Linked DNA regions of Homo sapiens. The protein of the gene in region 1 interacts with the protein of each later gene in a pairwise test. Each region holds a gene or a part of one and is shown on either strand. Other genes may lie near its edges.

The links.
Region 2: the proteins of GOLGA8K (region 1) and OR52E6 interact in a two-hybrid assay, tested with the Homo sapiens proteins (one large-scale study listed by BioGRID).

What each region holds. Positions count from the first base shown.
Region 1 is NC_000015.10:32,399,663-32,405,242, forward strand, and holds the start of GOLGA8K (golgin subfamily A member 8K), read right to left. Parts: upstream 3,631-5,580; 5' UTR 3,533-3,630; coding exon 3,485-3,532; intron 1,814-3,484; coding exon 1,694-1,813; intron 1,299-1,693; exon of another isoform or gene 800-1,298; coding exon 740-799; exon of another isoform or gene 559-739; coding exon 478-558; exon of another isoform or gene 1-477.
Region 2 is NC_000011.10:5,840,428-5,843,185, reverse strand, and holds OR52E6 (olfactory receptor 52E6), read left to right. Parts: upstream 1-1,288; coding exon 1,289-2,230; 3' UTR 2,231-2,258; downstream 2,259-2,758. UniProt on the Homo sapiens protein: Odorant receptor.

The DNA.
Region 1 (5,580 bases):
GGAAAAGGACAGACAGGAGCCCTTAGCCCTGAGGTTTCCGTTCTAGGGGGCCTTTAAATCTCAGACTCGAGAGCTAACAGAGACCTTTGATACTCACTACCTCCTCTGGAAACACGAGCCCAAAAAGGAGAGGTGGCTTGTCCAGAATCAAAGAGCAAATTAGGGACTGAGTCATGGCAGAAATACGGGGCCCTTGACAACCAGTCAGGCTAGCACTTCCCCAAGAGGCAACAACCCCAGGGCGTGTGTAGCAAGGACTCGAGCAGGGGTGTCTGGAGAGGAGAGAGTCGGCAAAGAGGGCAGCAAAAGAAGAGCCATGCTGCATGCTCTGGGGTCCCTCCAGGTGAGGCCTGGGCACCCAAGCTCCCTATTTGTCCCAGGCACCAGGGACCCCCAGCCCCTTTCTTCAGGGCCCCAAGGGGAAACTGGAGCCCAGGATTGGCAGCGTGGAATCAGGGGACCCCAGTGGACTCTTACCAGAGATTTGATGGTGTTCTTCAGTTGACTGATTTCTACGGACCTTGAATCCAGGACTACTGCTCGTTCTTGGCACGGGCTCTGAGGTGCATGCAGAGAGGAGGAGGTGGAGCAGGAGTGGGGGGAGAGGTAGAGAGAACAATCATTAGGGCTGGGGTGTGTAGGCTGTCTCAGCTGGCAGAGGGGCACCCAGTCCCACCTGGAGGAGGAGGTTGGAGGGTTGACCCGAAGGGTCACTGCACCTCCGCCCAGAGCCTCTTACCTCCAGATCTTTCAGGGTAGCAGATGATGTAGGGCCTTCCCTGTGGAAACCTGTTGCTGACTACAAGAGATGAGAGTGCACATGGAGATGTTCTGTCCCCCACAGTGTCTGAGCCCTCTGACTTCCTTTCTTCCCCATCAACTGGCAACATTTTCTTTTCTGCCTATCTTGGACCTTTTGTCCCATAACTCCTTTGTGCCAACTTCTCTCATGGTTCTTATCTCCCCACCATCCCATCCTGGGGCCCCTTCAGTGACTCCTGATGGCAAGTGGCTGTTCTCATTGTCCTGGTTTCCCCCTGAGACTGGGGATGAGGAAAATCAAACCATATCCTGGGTGTCCTGAGTGTTTACAGCAGGCCATGTACTAGGGATTAACATAAAAACAACAATAACAAATCTCATTTAAACTTCACAAATGGAAGTGAAACAATAACACCTCTATTATACAGATGTGAAAAGAGAGGCCCGATGAGGTCTAGCAACTTGCCCTAAATCATATCCCTAGCAGAGCAGATGGAGAGGCAGGATTCAAACCCAGAATTCCTTTTTTTTTTTTTTTCTTTGAGACAGAGTCTTGCTCTGTCACCAGGCTGGAGTGCAGTGGCATAATCTTGGCTACTGCAAGCTCCACCTCCCAGGTTCACACCATTCTCTTGCCTCAGCCTTCTGAGTAGCTGGGACTACAGGCACACGCCACCACGCTTGGCTAATGTTTTGTATTTTTAGTAGAGACAGGGTTTCACCGTGTTAACCAGGATGGTCTCGATCTCCTGACCTCATGATCCGCCTGCCTTGGCCTCCCAAAGTGCTAGGATTACAGGCGTGGGCCACCACACCCGGCTAAAGCCAGAATTCTTAACCAGTACCCAGCAGTCCATCCACAATCTTAAGAATTACCCTCTATTGCCCCTTGGGCCCCCTGTCCCCAGAAGCCTGGTCAGCCAAGACTCACATCCCTAGGTGGCTGGCAACCACCAGAAGTGGCTTTCTCAGGGATACTGCCATTTGTTTTCCTGTTCCTGTTCGCTCCTGCTGGAACTCTAGGGCTGTTTTTCTGCCAATATTCTTTTAACTGTTGGAAAGAAGAGCAGTAATACTCATGAGAACCATCAGCCCCTACAGCCACATCCTCCTTTACAGTTTTTACAAAATACACTTACACACCATCTGATTTAATGACACCAACAACTGTACAAGGTGTTGTCACACTCATTTAGTGACTGAGAAGGATTGATATCATGGCTAGAAAAAAAAAAAAGAAAAAGGCAATACTGGAACTTTGAAACTCAGTCTTCTGACTCCAAGCTCTGAGGTTTTGCCAAGAATCAGCAGCTGCCAGGGACCAAAACCAGAGGCAGAGGTAGAAAAGTAAACATTAAGTAGGCAGGAACTGTATGCCATGTGGTTTAGAGTCATACATCCTCACACGTCTGTTAGTGTGAAGAAGTGCACCAGTACCTCTCAAACTCTTATATCAATGTGTCCTCATGGCAGAAGGCAGCCTTTCTCTTAAATCAGAATTTATCAGAAAGAGGATAACCCAAGCCTCATTTCAGAGAGAGGTCTGGTATACTCTTAGAAACCTATGTGACTGTCATCCCTAAGTACATTCATGTTTTTTCTCTTGATCTCAAGAGAATCAAGGGAAACTGATGCTTCAGAAAGATGTCCCACATTTATCCTGTGGCACTCAAAGTACCCAAGGTTGAGATAATATGAGGAAGATTCAAGGTGTCAAGTTCAGTTTCCCAAGATCTATTCCACAGAAGATGAGCAAATGTCACTTCAGAGACCACTGACTGAAGGAGAGTCTGGTCCCAGAACCATGGAGAATTAGAATATGAGGTGGAGAACTCAGAAAAAAATGTTAAAATCTCTCTGGAAAGTAGAAGCCTGGGAGAAAACCAAACCAAACCCATTCTCTCATTGCCACCCAGAGATACTGTCAACGTTTTGAGTTCATGGGGGAAGTGTAGGCTTTTCCCACCGTCAACATCTGTAAGGGAGTGAGGCAGCCTGGAACCTCTTCCTCCTAGGTCCCATAGTCTCCATTCCCCTTCCAGCTGGAAATTTGTGCTGTGACCAGAGGAACCAGAAACGGGGTGAGAACGCTTAGGGGACTGGGTCGTAAGATCAAAGGCCAGTCTTGCAGTAACGGCAGTTACTAGGTGGACTGTGACATCACAACATTCCACTCCTCCTGGTCGGGGGGAGGGACCATGTCAGCACCATGTCCAAGTCGCTGCTCCACGATGGGGGAGGGAAGCACAGGGTTGGGACCCAGCTCCTTGGAGACGCCAGCACAAAGAACCCAGGGAGGTCGACCTTGAGGCAGCAGGAGGGGAGGGCACAGTCTGCAGCAGGGAGTCCCAGGAGTCACCAGTCCAAAGTCACCCAGGGATGACTGGCGAGGGTGGGGCCTGGCTCCTTGGAGATGAGAGCCCAAAGAGCCCAGGGAGATCAAGCTTGGGGCGGCAGGAGATGAGGGCCCAGTAATGGAGCGGGAAGCCCCAGGACTCACCCACCCAAAGTCACCCTGGGGTGATTGGCGAGGGCAAGGACTGGGCTGCTTGCTGAAGGGGTGGGGCTGACTGACAAAACTTTGGTGGGGGTAGCCCAGAGGCACCGGGGTAGGGGGGACGAGTCCAGTGTGCCTCAGGAGTCGTATAGACTCTGGCAGGGGTCTTGTCATCAGAGGGGATCTGTGGCTGGGTTGAGGGGCTATGACCTAGTGCGTTTTTACCTTTTTCTTGGCTGCAGCCAATTTGTTGTGTTGAGTTTCTTCTGCCATCGCAGGGTGGGGAGGGAGGCAGGGTTGGGGTCACAGCAGCAAAATCTCAATGAGAACCGATCAAGGCCTCCAGTCACCTACCAGGCAGCTGTGTGACTGAGCCAGAGGAGGCGTAACCAGGGCCCCAGTAGAATGCGGAATAGGGGCGTGGCCTTAATGCTCCAAGCCCATTGGTCAATGAGAAAGATGAAAAGGAAAGGGGGCGTGGCCAGAAAGCAGTGTGTCCAGAGGGACCTGTGGCTCACAAGGAAAGCTGCCCATGGCAACCGCTCTCCCCACCCACTCTAAGAGAGGGGAGAGGCCTCCCACTCTGGAAGAGAAGAGGGGCCGGCTTTTGCTTTAAAAGCTTTAAAACTTTAAAAAATATATGTGTGTATACTTTATATATATGTGTGTCCGTGTGTGTGTATCTATGTTTTTCTCCATAGCTGTCTTCATTATCCAGCTTCTATGCAAGGTCTATGATTTTGGCCTATATTCTTCATCTTTGATTACAGTACAAAAATTACCAGTATTACCTTAACTGAGATACAGATCCTATAAAAATGGAAAATGCATAGCATGCTTGATGATTAATGAAGCAGACTATATTATCCAACATTCTAATAAGATAAAATAATCACAATGATTTCTCTTTTTTGGAAAAATGTTTCTTTTATTCTCCTACGTTTTCATTAAGATTTTTTTTTCTTAAACAAGAAACATGTCTAATATCTGTAAAAACACAAAGCTTTTGGGCCGGGTGCAGTGGCTCATGCCTGTAATTCCAGGACTTTGAGAGCCCAAGGTGGGTGGATCATGAGGTCAGGAGATCGAGACCATCCTGGCTAACACGGTGAAATCCCATCTCTACTAAAAATACAAAAAAGGCCGGATGTGGTGGCAGGCAACTGTAGTCTCAGCTACTTGGGAGGCTGAGGCAGGAGAATGACATGAACCCCCGAGGTGGAGCTTGCAGTGAGCCAAGATCATGCCGCTGCACTCCAGCCTGGCTACAGAGCAAGACTCCATCTCAATAAATAAATAAATTAATTAATTAATTAATAAAAATAAAAAATTAATAGTAAGAGCAATGTGAACAAAAGTTGTAATAAAATAATTTAGAAAATACAAACTATTAAAAAATAGATTTTAAAACTTGTGCAACAAAGTCAAACAGCACCCAACGAAAATGTATACCCTTACATGTTTGTTTAAAAAGCAATTTAAATTACATTGATCCACTAAACTGGGAAAAGCAAAACAAACAAAAAGGGGGAAATAATTAAGACATAAGGAAAAAGGAAAAAGAAAAACCACTAGATTTAAAAAATAAAACTGAAGGAGGATTCTTTCAAAAGACTGAGATAATAAAACAGTCAAGCCTCTGATAAGTAATCAAGATAAAGAAAACTTTGAAGAGAAAAGGGCATATAGCCACATGTGAATATGATGCAAAAAGTGAAAACTTTACACATCTTTACAACACCTTAGAAGTATGGATGACATGTTCATTTTTTTTTTTTTTTTTTTTGAGACGGAGTCTTGCTCTGTCACCCACGCTGGAGTGCAGTGGCGTGATCTTGGCTCACTGCAAGCTCCGCCTCCCGGGTTCACAACATTCTCCTGCCTCAACCTCCCGAGTAGCTGGGACTACAGGCGCCCGCCACCACGCCTGGCTAATTTTTTGTATTTTGGCTTAGTAGAGACGGGGTTTCACCATGTTAGTCAGGATGGTCTCGATCTCCTGACCTCGTGATCCACCCGCCTCGGCCTCCCAAAGTGCTGGGATTACAGGCATGAGCCATCGCACCCGGCCAAAGTGTTCATTTTTTTTTTTTTTAAGAACCTACAGTTATGAAAACTAACTGGAAAGAAATGGGTTTTGGGAAAGATTGAGTACATTTTTGTGATGTTCAACATTATTTTTTCTTACAGTTTTAAAAACACAATTGATATTTCTATCAATTTGACTTAAAAAAATTAAGAACTATATTAAAATTTACCAGCAGAGGGGAGTGAAGGAACACAAAGCAACTTTCAGTTTAGGGTAATTTTTGGGCATAAAC
Region 2 (2,758 bases), on another chromosome or scaffold:
GGTGTATTTATCTAAATTAATCTTTTATTCCATATTTAGCTTTAAGTGCAAAATACTTTTCATTAATTATCTTCCTTTAATTTTCTTTACCCAATTTCCAAAAATGATGGATACAGTATTCTTTTTGCAAAAGAAATTGTGATGATCAAGGAGTTGTTTATTTTCTGAAACATCACATTAAAATTTTTTGCTGTCTGGTTTTCAATTTATTAACTTGATTAACATTTAAAATTGAGAACTCTTAAGTGGTATATAAAAAATATACGCTTTTCAAAGACTTGAAACCAACCCAAATGCCTGTGAATAATAGAGTGGATAAAGAAAATGTGGCACATATATACCATGGAATACTATGCACTTATAAAAAAGGATGAGTTCATGTCCTTTGCAGGGACATGGATGAAGCTGGAAACCATCATTCTCAGCAAACTATCACAAGAACAGAAAACCAAACAATGAATGTTCTTACTCATAAGTAGGGGTTGAACAATAAGAATACATGGACACAGGGAGGGGAACAACACACACTGGGGCCTGTCGGGGGTTTGGGGGCTAAGGGTGGGATAGCATTAGGAGAACAACCTAATGTAGATGACGGGCTGATGGGTGCAGCAAACCATCATGGCACGTGGATACCTGTGTAACAAACCTGCACATTCTGTACATGTATCCAAAAATTTAAAGCATAATAATAAAAAAAGAAATAAATAATAAATATTACATGTATGTGTAAATATAGGCTTTTTCTCTCTGCTCTAAAAGTAAACCCACTAGTACTCTACAATTCATGTAGAAATGCATAGATACACACAAACACACACTCAGTGCACAAATATAAACTTTATTGTTAGCAGGATCTCTAGTAAGGGATTAACAGAGATTACAGATAAAAATCAGCCTGAAAGTTAAGAAAAATGAGTGTAAAACGATCAGATTCATAGGTTCTGAAATCTTATTTTTAAAATTAGTTTCTGCATAGACTCTTCATTATAAATTTCTGTCAGGCAGATAGAGGTTTCTCCCCACTTTATTCCTCATGTGTAATAAATTCTGGTAGGAAAAGTGGCAATCAGGTGAAGCTGATTTAATTATTGATTCTGTTTCATGCTCATATGACCCTAGCAGAGTAAGAGGTATTTTACTCTTTTTCAGAAAGGAACCAAGAAGAGTACAATGCTATTTTTTATTTTACCAGGAATCAGGATAAAGTGAGAAGTGGAGCAAGAATCACTAATGGAAAGTCAATAATTGTCACTGATACACACAACAGCTTTTTGTGACAGAAAGAATGCCTATAGCTAACGACACCCAGTTCCATACTTCTTCATTCCTACTGCTGGGTATCCCAGGGCTAGAAGATGTGCACATCTGGATTGGATTCCCTTTTTTCTCTGTGTATCTTATTGCACTCCTGGGAAATGCTGCTATCTTCTTTGTGATCCAAACTGAGCAGAGTCTCCATGAGCCCATGTACTACTGCCTGGCCATGTTGGATTCCATTGACCTGAGCTTGTCTACGGCCACCATTCCCAAAATGCTGGGCATCTTCTGGTTCAATATCAAGGAAATATCTTTTGGAGGCTACCTTTCTCAGATGTTCTTCATCCATTTCTTCACTGTCATGGAGAGCATCGTATTGGTGGCCATGGCCTTTGACCGCTACATTGCCATTTGCAAACCTCTTTGGTACACCATGATCCTCACCAGCAAAATCATCAGCCTCATTGCAGGCATTGCTGTCCTGAGGAGCTTGTACATGGTCATTCCACTGGTGTTTCTCCTCTTAAGGTTGCCCTTCTGTGGACATCGTATCATCCCTCATACTTACTGTGAGCACATGGGCATTGCCCGTCTGGCCTGTGCCAGCATCAAAGTCAACATTATGTTTGGTCTTGGCAGTATTTCTCTCTTGTTATTGGATGTGCTCCTTATTATTCTCTCCCATATCAGGATCCTCTATGCTGTCTTCTGCCTGCCCTCCTGGGAAGCTCGACTCAAAGCTCTCAACACCTGTGGCTCTCACATTGGTGTTATCTTAGCCTTTTCTACACCAGCATTTTTCTCTTTCTTTACACACTGCTTTGGCCATGATATTCCCCAATATATCCACATTTTCTTGGCTAATCTATATGTGGTTGTTCCTCCCACCCTCAATCCTGTAATCTATGGGGTCAGAACCAAACATATTAGGGAGACAGTGCTGAGGATTTTCTTCAAGACAGATCACTAACCAGTTGGAGTTTGGAGGGTCTCTCTTAGCATTCATGATGAAGCAGCCACTAGGGAGGAGAGAAGAGACACCAAGGAATTTGGGTACAGAGAAAGTGAGATACCCTGAATAAAATTTAAAATAATTATGAGTGTATTGGTAGATAAATATTATTTCACAGTCACCTTCAGTGAAATGTCCCAACCACAAAATATATCCATTTGTTTGTTTTCATGTTTTTGCTGGGTTTGCTTTGTCTTTTTGTTTCTGGATAAATAGTTGTAATCTTTTAGAAAATGTGGTGTGTATATGTGTTTATGTTCATATGTTCATAGAGAGGAACTGGTAGAAGGCAATTAAATTGACCAGTATGGATTGAATCCTTGCCTGTATTAATTGTTTGAACCAGCACTTTCTATTGATAGGCAAGACTTTTTCTCCTGATGCTCTGTTCTTCCAGAAAGTCTCCTTATCCAGTTTGAGAGAGAAAGGCACATAACATATATTAATGCAGAGTGATAAATCAAAGGACAGACTTATGAATCAGGT